Linked DNA regions of Homo sapiens: region 1 is linked to region 2. The links come from fine-mapping of genetic effects on gene expression. A gene starts in region 2. The other region holds a variant in brackets. All regions are shown on one strand. Distances are from middle to middle.

What was found. PIP is the estimated chance that this variant, and not a neighbour inherited with it, causes the effect.
Region 1: its variant is fine-mapped to the expression of BRD3OS in ovary (GTEx, PIP above 0.99).

The regions. Positions count from the first base shown.
Region 1 is chr9:133,803,620-133,808,619 of GRCh38, forward strand. VAV2 (vav guanine nucleotide exchange factor 2) reads right to left here. Exons shown (of 30, transcript NM_001134398.2): 8 at 3,639-3,707; 9 at 2,462-2,562. Among named protein-coding and RNA genes, the nearest start is that of SARDH, 68 kb to the left of the region's middle. RefSeq lists an enhancer at 1-287. The variant T/C (reference allele first, on the strand shown) is at 2,086.
Region 2 is chr9:134,022,258-134,027,762 of GRCh38, forward strand. It overlaps BRD3OS (BRD3 opposite strand), which reads left to right and starts at 3,224. Exons shown (of 3, transcript NM_001355256.2): 1 at 3,224-3,279; 2 at 3,588-3,833; 3 at 3,951-5,505. The coding sequence starts at 4,491. The coding sequence ends at 4,745. RefSeq lists silencers at 2,658-2,787, 3,098-3,517.

The DNA of each region.
Region 1 (5,000 bases), 220 kb before region 2:
CGAAGGCTGCATTCATGAAAGTATAACCTCAAAAAGAGGGAGGTGACTGTCTCCTGCCACTCAGTGCCGATCATGCCACACCGGAATGCTACTCCACCCTTCACCCCCGACGAGCTGCCAGGACCCTGTCACAAAGCCCTTCAGCAGCTTCCTCGTGCCCTCGCTTAATAAAAGAAAAATTCTAAATCCTTCCTTTGGCCTGGAAGCCCCTGCAGGACCCTCCAGCCCTTCCCTGGAGAACCGCCCCTTTTCTACTGGGCTCATGCCTCTCACCTTCCCCTAAGCTTCTGCTCCCCAACCCGCCTCGCCCCACCCCTGCAGGACTGTGCTCAGGGGGACACGTCCTCCGCTGTGCAGCCCTCACGGGTCTCCTGGGCTCTCCAGCAACGCCGCAGCTCCCCCCGGAGCTTCTCTATCTTGTCTTGGTTCTCATCCATCCCACCCAGCGAGAGGCCAGTAGCTCTGTTCACTGCGTGTCCTCAGTCCAGAGCTCAGGAGCCATACAGAGCAGGCACCCTATAAAAGCTTCAGGACTCAGCCAGCAAGCAAGAACCAGGACCTTGGGGCCGAATCCGAAATGAGAGGAAAGGGGCAAAAAAGCTGGATGCTGGGACAGAACCACGATGATTTGGTGATGAGCTCTGATGAAACGCTGACAGCCCCTTCCCCAAACAGACCCCGACTGACGGATCTCGCCACACGCCTCGCTGCCAGGGACGGAGCTGCCCGTCCACAGAGCTCTTGGGCTGGGCCTGTGACTGGACGTGCTGCCCGCACTGCAGTGGCGCTCCAAGGCAGAGATGCCCGCTGTTCCTCAGCGGGAACCACCCATGCAAGGTCCTGCTGGTGGGACAGGGCCAGGGGTGTCGCCGGGCAGCCTGACTGTGGAGGGAGGCTCCTGGGAGAGGACAGGTTATCCACCCTGTCACTCTACCACACAGCCAGCCATTCCTCCTCCAGGGCTTCAGCCTTTGACGGACCTCGAAGCAAACCACGCCTCATCCGTGGCTCCCTCCCTTCCTGGCCGAGGGACAGCATGAACAAGGCGCTGAAAAGGACCACTGTACCCCACACCTGCTGAGGACTGGGGCGACAGCCAGTGTGACCTGCCAGCCGGGCACTATCAGCTCACCCACAGATGAAGGGAACACCTTGCTGAGGGCAGGTTAGGGAGCTGTCCTCCCCCGATCCCTGCCCACTCTTAACCCTCTGGGGCTGGCCAGTGTGCTCACACCTGCTGGGCCTCGTCAGCTCTCCTGGTCCCCTCTGCCACTGGACCACAAGCACTGCCTGCTCCCTCGTGTCTCCGGGAACCCTCCAAGCCATGGCCCCTGGAGAGCAGGCTCCAGGACCCTCCTCACAGGGAAGGGGGGAGCGCCTTTCCTGAAGCTACAGAGCACACAGGGAAGCACCTGCAGGGCTTCCCAGGCAACGTGCCTGAGAATCCAGCCCTGGGCCTGTCCCCGGCTGCCTGGACAGGGAGGGGTGTGAGCTGTGCTGACGGCCACCTGGCGGGTGATGCAGGGGACCCTCCTAGAGATGAGGGAGAGATGGACCCGGGCGCCCAATGCCTAGGCTCAGGGCCGCGTGGTAAGATGCACCTGTGGGGTCTTCTACAACTCCCCAGGCCCCAGAGCAGACCCAGACCCTTCCAAGAGTGGACCCCGGACATGGTATTTGTAACAAGCTCCCCAGTGGCTCTAGTGAGCAGCCAAGTTCAGGAAGCATTAGCATAGACCCCTTCGGGCTCCTCCAAAGGATCCCCGAGGGACAGAGAGCTTGGCACCGTCCCCTGATGGGGCTCTCTCGAGACTTCCGTGGCTGGAAACGCCATCTCCCCAGCCTCTGACAGCCTGGGCATTGTCTAACCCCCAGAAACGCCATCTCCCCAGCCTCCGACAGCCTGGGCATTGTCTAACCCCCAGAAACGCCGCCTCCCCAACCTCCAACAGCCTGGGCATCGTCTAAGCTCCAGAAATGCCACCTCCCCAGCCTCCGGCAGCCTGGGCGTCATCTAAGCCCCAGAAACGCCACCTCCCCAGCCTCCGACAGCCTGGGCATCATTTAAGCTCCACGTGCCACCTC[T/C]TTTCATCCTTGTCCACATCCTAACTTTAAAGAACCGGCCACAAGGGTGCAGAAGGGAGAAGTGGGGGCCCGAGATCTCCGCTGGGACAGCCGAGCCACTTGGATGGCCACACCTCTCACAGCCAGTTAGAAACATCCAGAACCCCAATCCTGCCCCTGCCGAGCTCCCACAGGACAGGAGGCTCCACACCCTCTCCATCAACCAGGCTGCGGCTCGGGGTGGGTGGCATCCTCAACAAGGGAGGACGGGGTCCAGAGGGGGCGGCCCCTGCCTCGGGACACCCCAAGAGTCCCACTTACACAAGAGTTCCACTTGTGTAAACTCTCCCGCAGACAGGGAGGGGCCAAGGAGCCCCAGGAGCCGGCAGCCACTCACCTTTCCTTGAAATCGAGGAAGACCTTGGCCAGCGTGCTGCCCCCCACCATCACGGACACGTCGATGGCCCTCAGGAAGCTGTGATGCACCTTGATCAGGTCCTGGGTTGAAAACCAGCCGTGAGTGCCTGGCCAGGCCCACCCAAGGCTAGACGGGAGCGCCGCCCTTAAAGTGCCCTTGTTGTTCTGTAGTTCCCTCAAGGAGGGGAGGGGCCCGGGTGCTGGGCCTGCACCCCACATCTCTGTGCATGCCAGGGTGTGATTCAGGTAGAAGGTTCTATGGCGATGGTGCAACAGAAGAGCCAGTACGTGTGGGAGGGAAGCCGCCCACAGCCCGCACCAGCCCATCAGACACGCAGCGGCCGACTCGGGGCGGGCTCTGCAGACAGCGTGGGGCGGCACAGCGCAGTACTCCTGTGCTCAGGCCACACCCCGGGACCCCCATCCCCACCCCGGGACCCCCATCCCCGCCCCAGGCCTCTTTCTGTCTGTGCTCCTCCATCCTGGCCACAGCTCAAGGACAGATGAACTCTAGGTCAGAGGCACAGACTATAGGAAGCTCTGGGGTCCAAGCCAGCCTCATCCAGGGCAGCGTGACCAGAGCTCACCCTTGCAGCTAATGAGACGGCCAGGGAGGCAGGACACAGCCACCGCACGGGCTGCTGGCACCTGTGGCCGCCAGGCCAGGAGGAAGGGCCAGGAGCAGCATGTCCCCGGAGGAAGCCCACCCATGCACGGCTGCCGGAGCCTGGTGCCAGCGCCCTGCTCTGCTAACCACGTCTAGGTGACTCTTTGCATGGGGAACTGCCTTTCTATGACTGAGTTCAGACACCCGCAGGGCAGGCGAGGGGGTCCGCTCAAAGGGGTGGAGGGACACGTTTCTCTCTGGCCGCTGACAAAAACTTCATTTACATTCTCAGCGTCATCCGTGCCTCCAGCCACGCACGTCAGTGCTGCCCTCACCCGCAGACAAGCGGAGCCCAGAAACCTGCTACCCTGGCTCCTAAATCCAAAGACCCTGGAGAGAGCGGTGGGGGCTCCTCCTTCCGGCCAGCACGAGCCACCACGGAGCCACAGGGGTGCAGCTCTCCAAGGCCCTGAGGACAGCAGGACATGTGTGGCCAGTGCCGAGTTAGGGCCCCGAGCCTGGCATGAGCGATGGGGGCCGGGACCCTTACCTCCAGGTTAATGAAGACAGCTGCCATGTCCGCCGGGCTCAGCACCAGCCGCAGGGGGCTCATGTAGTTCTGGAAGAGAGAAGTCCACCTCTGCCACCCTGCTGCTGTTGCCCACCCTCTCAAGGTCACAGCTGCCAGGGGAGGGTCCCAGGGCAGCTCCGAGGCAGGCACTGGGGTGCTCCATGCTTACTGGGGTAGCCTGTGTTCTGGCCACATCGGGCTCCATTCTTTGGAGGTGAGTGCAGGGCAGGAAGGTGCGGGGGTAAAGATTCTAACGCTCCCAGCGTGACGGGGGCAGAGTCCTGTGGTGGCCACTCACACACAGGGTGGACTTGGGCACTATGGCTGCCCTGAGGTGGGCGTTGGGGTTGTGGCTTGCGGTGAGGGGCTGAGACCCAGGAGGCAGGGCCATCACCCGTGGGGACTCTCTGGATGGACAGGGCCATGGTCCCCACCCAGCACTCAAACACTGAGCTTGTGCTCCTGAGCATGACCCCAAAACTGTCATCAAAAGGGATGCTCTCCACCCCGAGGAGTGCCGGTGGTGGGGCAGGCTGTGGACGAGAGTCCTCCAGCTCCAGCCTCAGGCGGGATGTGAAGTGAACATGAGGACGTGTGAGGCTGCTGACCCTGCTCTGGAGGCCCGGCCACCCTCTCCTCTCCTGCTCCCCGAGTGGCTCCTGGTCAGGGCAGCCAGCCGCTCTGCAGGCATCCTCTGGGCCCAGCTGCTGCACCGCTCCTTGGTCACCACGTGGCACAGAGAGCATCGCCCAAGCAAACACGCCCGGGTGGCGGCCCCAGGCTGGGTGGAGACAGACCTCAGGAGCCCTCCTGCTTTCTGCAGCAGCATTTAGCCATGGAGGGATACAGAGGCCAGCAGGGCCCTGGCAGAGGCTGACCTCAGAGCCAGGATTCTCAGAAGCCAGGGCATGGGCAGGGCTTCGAGGGAACTGGAAGGACCTGGGCCAGGGTGTACAGATGTGCGTGCAGAAAGGCCGCTGGCCAAGGACCAGAGGGTGGGGCAGCAGGAGGGGGCCCGGCCGGAGCAAGGCCAGCCTGGGCCCAAGGGGGCAGCCCAGGTCTCCCGGCTGGAGGCATCACGGCCACCCTGGTTGGTTTTTCTCCCCAGTAAACACTGGCAGTTGGCAATGAAGACTCAGAAGTGCTAGGGAAATGTCCCAGGGCCAGGTTGACCAGGTGCCTACAGGAGGCCCAGGTGGGGTAGGGGAGGTGAAGGCTGATCCTCAGCACTCTAGGAGCTCAGCAGGCCAGCAGGAGAGAGGACTCAGATGCACAAGAGTGGAAGAGCTGGGCAAGGAGCTTGGAGTCTGCAGCTCTGGTCACTAGGCCGGGCCATGCCTT
Region 2 (5,505 bases):
ACGCAAATGCTAGTGCCTTGTCTCTAAGTCACCAAAGGGAGGAGTTATAACGACATGAGTGGGCTCTCCTATCCCATCGTGGCTGGGAACTCAGTTTTAAGTTTTTTCTGAGGTCCCCTTGGCCAAGAGGGGATCCGTTCAGTCAGTGAGGAGTTTAGGATTTTATTTTTAGTTTATATTCCCTTCTTTTGGCCAAGATTTGCCAGAGATGGCATTGATGACCAAACTTTTATTTTGTCCTATATCGTTGCTGGGGCTGTGTGCTACCTGCACTGGGTCCATCTTGTCCCTTGGTGGGATCCCTATGGCCAAGAGACTTAGAGCCAAAAGACTGAAAGACAGCTAATTAAATGTTTTAGGACAGATAGGAAAGGAGATGGGCAGGCACTCATTCACCCTTAAAAACCTTTTGTGCAGCCAGGTGCGGTGGCTTATGCCTGTAATCCTAGCACTTTGGGAGTCTGAGGCGGGTGGATCACGAGGTCAGGAGTTTGAGACCAGCCTGATCAACATAGTGAAACCCTGTCTCCACTAAAAATACAAAATGAGCCAGGCATGGTGGCACATGCCTGTAACCCTAGCTACTCGGGAGGCTGAGGCAGGAGAATCACTTGAACCTGGGAGGCGGAGGTTGCAGTGAGCTGAGATTGCACCATTGTACTCCGGTCTGGGCGACAGAGCGAGATTCCATCTCAAAAAAATCAAAATAAAACAAACAACAACAACAACAAAAAACAACCTTTTGTGCAACATAAGAGGCAAAAACCAAAATCCAAAACGTGAGGTTACAAAATTGACTTATCTCTAAGTTTTATGTATTGAGCTATCAGCTATTTAGGTATTTGTGAACCATCTTTGATTCAGAGGGTCTGAACAAATTTTATCCCTCGAAACCAGCCCTTACAATCTCATGCGTTTACCTCTTCTGCAATTGTCCCTGGGCCTAGAGGGAGGGTGTTTGATATCAAATCAGATTGGAGCCAATGGGATTTTAAATCATTTTCAGATTCTGGAGATATCAGGTAGAAAAAGAGAGGTAATCTTCATTTTTTACTTAATTGTTGTAGCTATAAAATAGCTTAAAAGGAAAAACAGCTTTTTGACTCTGGAAAACAAAACATAAGTAAATGTTTCGAACAGAAATATAAGTCCTATTTGGTTTTGACAACGACAGGAAAAGGAAGCTTACAGGTAACTAAATATTCAAATTATTTAGTTCAAGGCATAGAACAAATTATATTAGCTTAGAGGCAATTTTTTTTTTTTTTTTTTGAGATGGGGTCTCACTCTGTCACCCAAGCTGGAGTGCAATGGTGCAATCTCAGCTCACTGCAACCTCCGCCTCCTGGGTTCAAGAGATTCTCCTGCCTCAGCCTCCTGAGTAGCTGGGATTACAGGCGCCTGCCACCACACTGGGCTAATTTTTTATATTTTTGGTAGAGACAGGGTTTCATCATGTTGGCTAGGCTGGTCTCGAACTCCTGACCTCAAGTGATGTGACCGCCTAGGCCTCCCAAAGTGCTGGGATTACAGGCGTGAAAACCGCACCCAGCCAGATAGAGGTAAAAGTGTTAAATGGGTCTTTGAATACAGGCCTGTTCTTGTGTCTCTTGAAAGCAGTATAACTTCGGTTGCTGTCTTTTCCCAGGTCGGAAGACTGGGAGATCATGTAAGATTTAAACGTTTTCAAATTTGTTGAAACTGATTTATGGTCCAGCATGTGATCAGTTTTGCTAAACGTCCTGTGTAGGTACTTGTGAAGAAAGTGCGAGGCAGGCGGATCACAAGGTCAGGAGTTCGAGACCAGCCTGGCCAATATGGTGAAACCCTGTCTCTACTAAAAATACAAAAATTAGCTGGGCGTGGTTGCCGGCGCCTGTAGTCCCAGCTACTCAGGAGGCTGAGGCAGGAGAATCGCTTGAACCTGGGGGGCGGAGGTTGCAGTGAGCTGAGATCGTGCCACCACACTCCACCCTGGGTGACAGAGTGAGATTCCCTTTCAAAAAAAAAAAAAAAAAGAATGTGCGTTCCACAGCTGTGGGCTTAGTGCTCACACTAAGCATCTTCCTTGGATGTCTGTTATGCTTATTTTCTTTTTTTTTAGAGATGGGGTTTTGCTGTTTCGTCCCAGCTGAAGTGCAGTGGCATGATTATGGCTCACTGCAGCCTCGAACTCCTGGCTCAAGGGATCCTCCTGCCTCAGCCTCCCAAGTAGGTGGGACTCAGAGGTGAGCCACCACACCAGGTTCCATTATGCTAGTTTTCTTAATTGGCATTGGAGAAAACCATAAAATTAGGGGAAAAGGGTAGATACTAAAAGAGTGCTATTGGAGTATGATTGGAGGTGGAGTGAGAAAAGGAAATAGACCTTGCTTTCATGGGGCTGTTGAGGAGTCCAAATGAGCAGTATAGAGGCCTGGCTTGGTTGGATGAGATGGAGAAATTCAAGACCTATTTTTGAGATAGTAAGCCCGGACATTTAATTAATTAAAAATAATTGTATCAATTACTGAGAGTAAGAATACTAATAAAAGCAGTAACAGCAGTGGCAAAAGTAACCACACAAGCAGAAATACGAAAACCAAGATGATAAGACCATACAGTCCGGCAGTGTCTTACTAACAGGGTTGTGGGCGTCCCACTCCTTCTCTTCATCCTCCTCCAGCTCCTCCTCCACGTCTTCCTCCAGCTCCTGCTCCTCTTTCTTTTCCAGTACCTCCTCAGCCCCTTCTCCTCTGCCAGCCCCTCCTCCCACCTCCGCTCCCAGCCCCTCCTCCTTTCCCAGCCCCTCACCATCCAGCCCCTCCTCCTCCATCTCCTCCTCCTCTCTCAGCTCCTCCTCCTCCCCCAGCTCCTCCTCCTGCTCCTCCTTCTCCTCCACTCCTCCTTCTGCTCCTCCTTCTCGTTCAGCTCCTCCTCTCCCAGCCCCTCCTCCTCCTCCAGCCCCTCCTCCTCATCCAGCCCTTTCTCCTCTCCCAGCCCCTCCTCTCCCAGCTCCTCCTCCTCCTCCCTCCTCCTCCTCCAGCCCCTCCTCCTCCAGCCCCTCCTCCTCCAGCCCCTCCTCCTCCTCTTCCAGTTCCTATTCGGGGCGGGCCCAGCCCCTCCTCGCGGAGCGATCGATGGCTTGGGCTCGTCGCACACGCCTGCCCAGCCTCTGCGCTCGGCTCGCCAGGCCTGCGGCGCTGCCATGGAGACACGGCCCAGCGGCCGCCGGCCCCGCCCTGGGAGCCCCGCAGTGCGTCGCGCCGCTGCCCGCATCTCCGAGGCCCGCGACGAGCGGTGACTGGGGCGGGCGACGTGGGGGACCCGGGGATGCGGGCAGACGATAGGGGGCTGGAGGATGGGGCGACCCAGAGCGCGCGGGGTCTGGGGCGCGGGGATGGGGGCCGCGGGCCACGCGACGGGGACCCCAGGGTGCGCGCAGGTGGCGGGGACGCGCGATGGGGGCCCGGGAAGCTGAGGCTGACCTAGCGCAGGCATCCCAGGAGGGGAGGTCCCTGACGCTGCGCAGCTGGGAAGGCGTTCGGGAGTGGGTTGCGATGCTTCCCTGTTTGTTTTCTCCTGACATCGTTTTTGTTTGGGTCCAGGGGCCTCACGGGAGCTGGATGCTCGGAGCAGCAAGGCGGCCCTGGGGGCCCCTTCCGGTCCCGGGGCTGACGCCTGGCGGCGTCTCCGGGAACCCGCGCCCTTTCAAGCGCCGCTGGCTCCTGTTTCACAGATGGAGACCCTGAAGCCCCAACAAGCAGCCTCCCCAGCACCTCCCAGTGACTGAAAAAGCTGGCACTGGGCGCCCGTCTCACTCTCCACCCAGCTCCCAGGCTGCCCCACGGGACGTAAGTAGCTCGATCTAGGCCGCTGACCCCCAGAGACTTGATGCTGCGCTGCAGACTGCCGCCGCTGCCGGGGCGCTTGACTTCCCCTCTCCTGACAGCACGTTCGTTCCTTTGCAGCAGCACCTTTGGGGAGAGACGAGACCTGAACAAACGCTGGGGCTGGATCCCCAGGGTGGGTCAGAACAGCCGTTGCCCTGAAAGCTGGCCCGGACAGATGCGTGCGGGGCGTGCCACCGGAGCTCCTTCCAGCTTGCGTCTGGGGCCACCATGTCCCTTCCTCAGGGCACTGGATCCATCTCTTCAAGCTCAGTGGTCCAGGCCATGGTGGCAGAATCACCCCCCAGGGTGTGACGCCTCGTCCCTGTCAATTCCACACAGCTGCACCCGGAAGAGCTGTGGCCGGGCGCCGCTCTGACCTGTGTGCGGTCCCCTGAATGGGTCTCAGGTGTCTTCAGAATGGTGAGGCCGCCTCATTTCCTCACCACACAACCCTCCTGAGGACGTTGCCTGCAAATGGGCGGAATTCCTAATTTCTACCATTCAGTTAAACGAGGGATCCTTAAGCCCCAAAGCTGGGAAAGCTGTCCGTTAATTTAGTGCGCGTGGGCCGTCTCAGAACAGCAGGGTTCCCAGGAGTCCAGCGGGACGGGGGAGGGGATGAGTGGCCGTGTCCCCCTGGCAGAGAAGGCCTTGTCTGAAGGCTACGCCCGCCTCCGGTACAGGGACACCTCCTTGCTCATCTGGCAGCAGCAACAGCAGAAGTTGGAGTCGGTGCCACCTGGGACGTACCTGAGCAGGAGCCGAAGCATGTGGTACTCACAGTATGGAAATGAGGCCATCTTGGTCCGAGACAAAAACAAGCTCGAGGTCTCTAGGGACACAGGGCAGTCCAAGTTTTGCACAATTATGTAATTCCGATGTGAGCACCTGAACCCAGGACCACACTTTGAGGAAAACAGACCTGAGTTTCATTCAGTTGTCTTGTTGATTTCCAATCCTTGCTGGAAGATTTTGAATAATGAACGTGAAGATCAAACTGTGGTGTAAGAACCCAAGAAGCGCAGAATTGGCCCCCGAACCCCTCAGCACAGCCGCGGTGTGACTGGTGCACAGGACACTTCCCCTCTAGAGTCCCCTCCGTGGTCAGCTGTTGTGACATTTGAATTCTCCAGGTGCTGCTAGGGACAGCATAGGCCCGGGCACTGCTAGATGCTTGGTTTAAACCAGGCCAAGAGTAACCCTCCCATCCCCATTACAAACCACCTTTTCAAGTTTTTTAGGTTTTAGTTTTTTGTTTTTAGCATAAATGGCGGAGTAGCAGCAGCATCTCACCAGGAGCTTTGTCGCATTACATTTTGTATTTTGCTTTTTTGAGACGGGGTCTCACTCTGTTACCCAGGCTGGAATACAGTGGCACAATCACAGCTCACTGTAGGCTCTATCTCCTGGGCTCAGGTGATCCTCCCAAACTCAGCCTCCCAGGTAGCTGTGGCTCCAGGCGAACTACTGTATATAGAGACAGGGTTTCCCTATGTTGCCCAGGCTGGTCTGGTCTTATAGTCCTGGGCTCAAGCCTCCCAGAGTGCTGGGATTACAGGCATGGGTCACCGCACCAAGCCCGCATTTATATTTTGAGTTACCAAAATGATCATCATCTGTGAAGCATCATGGT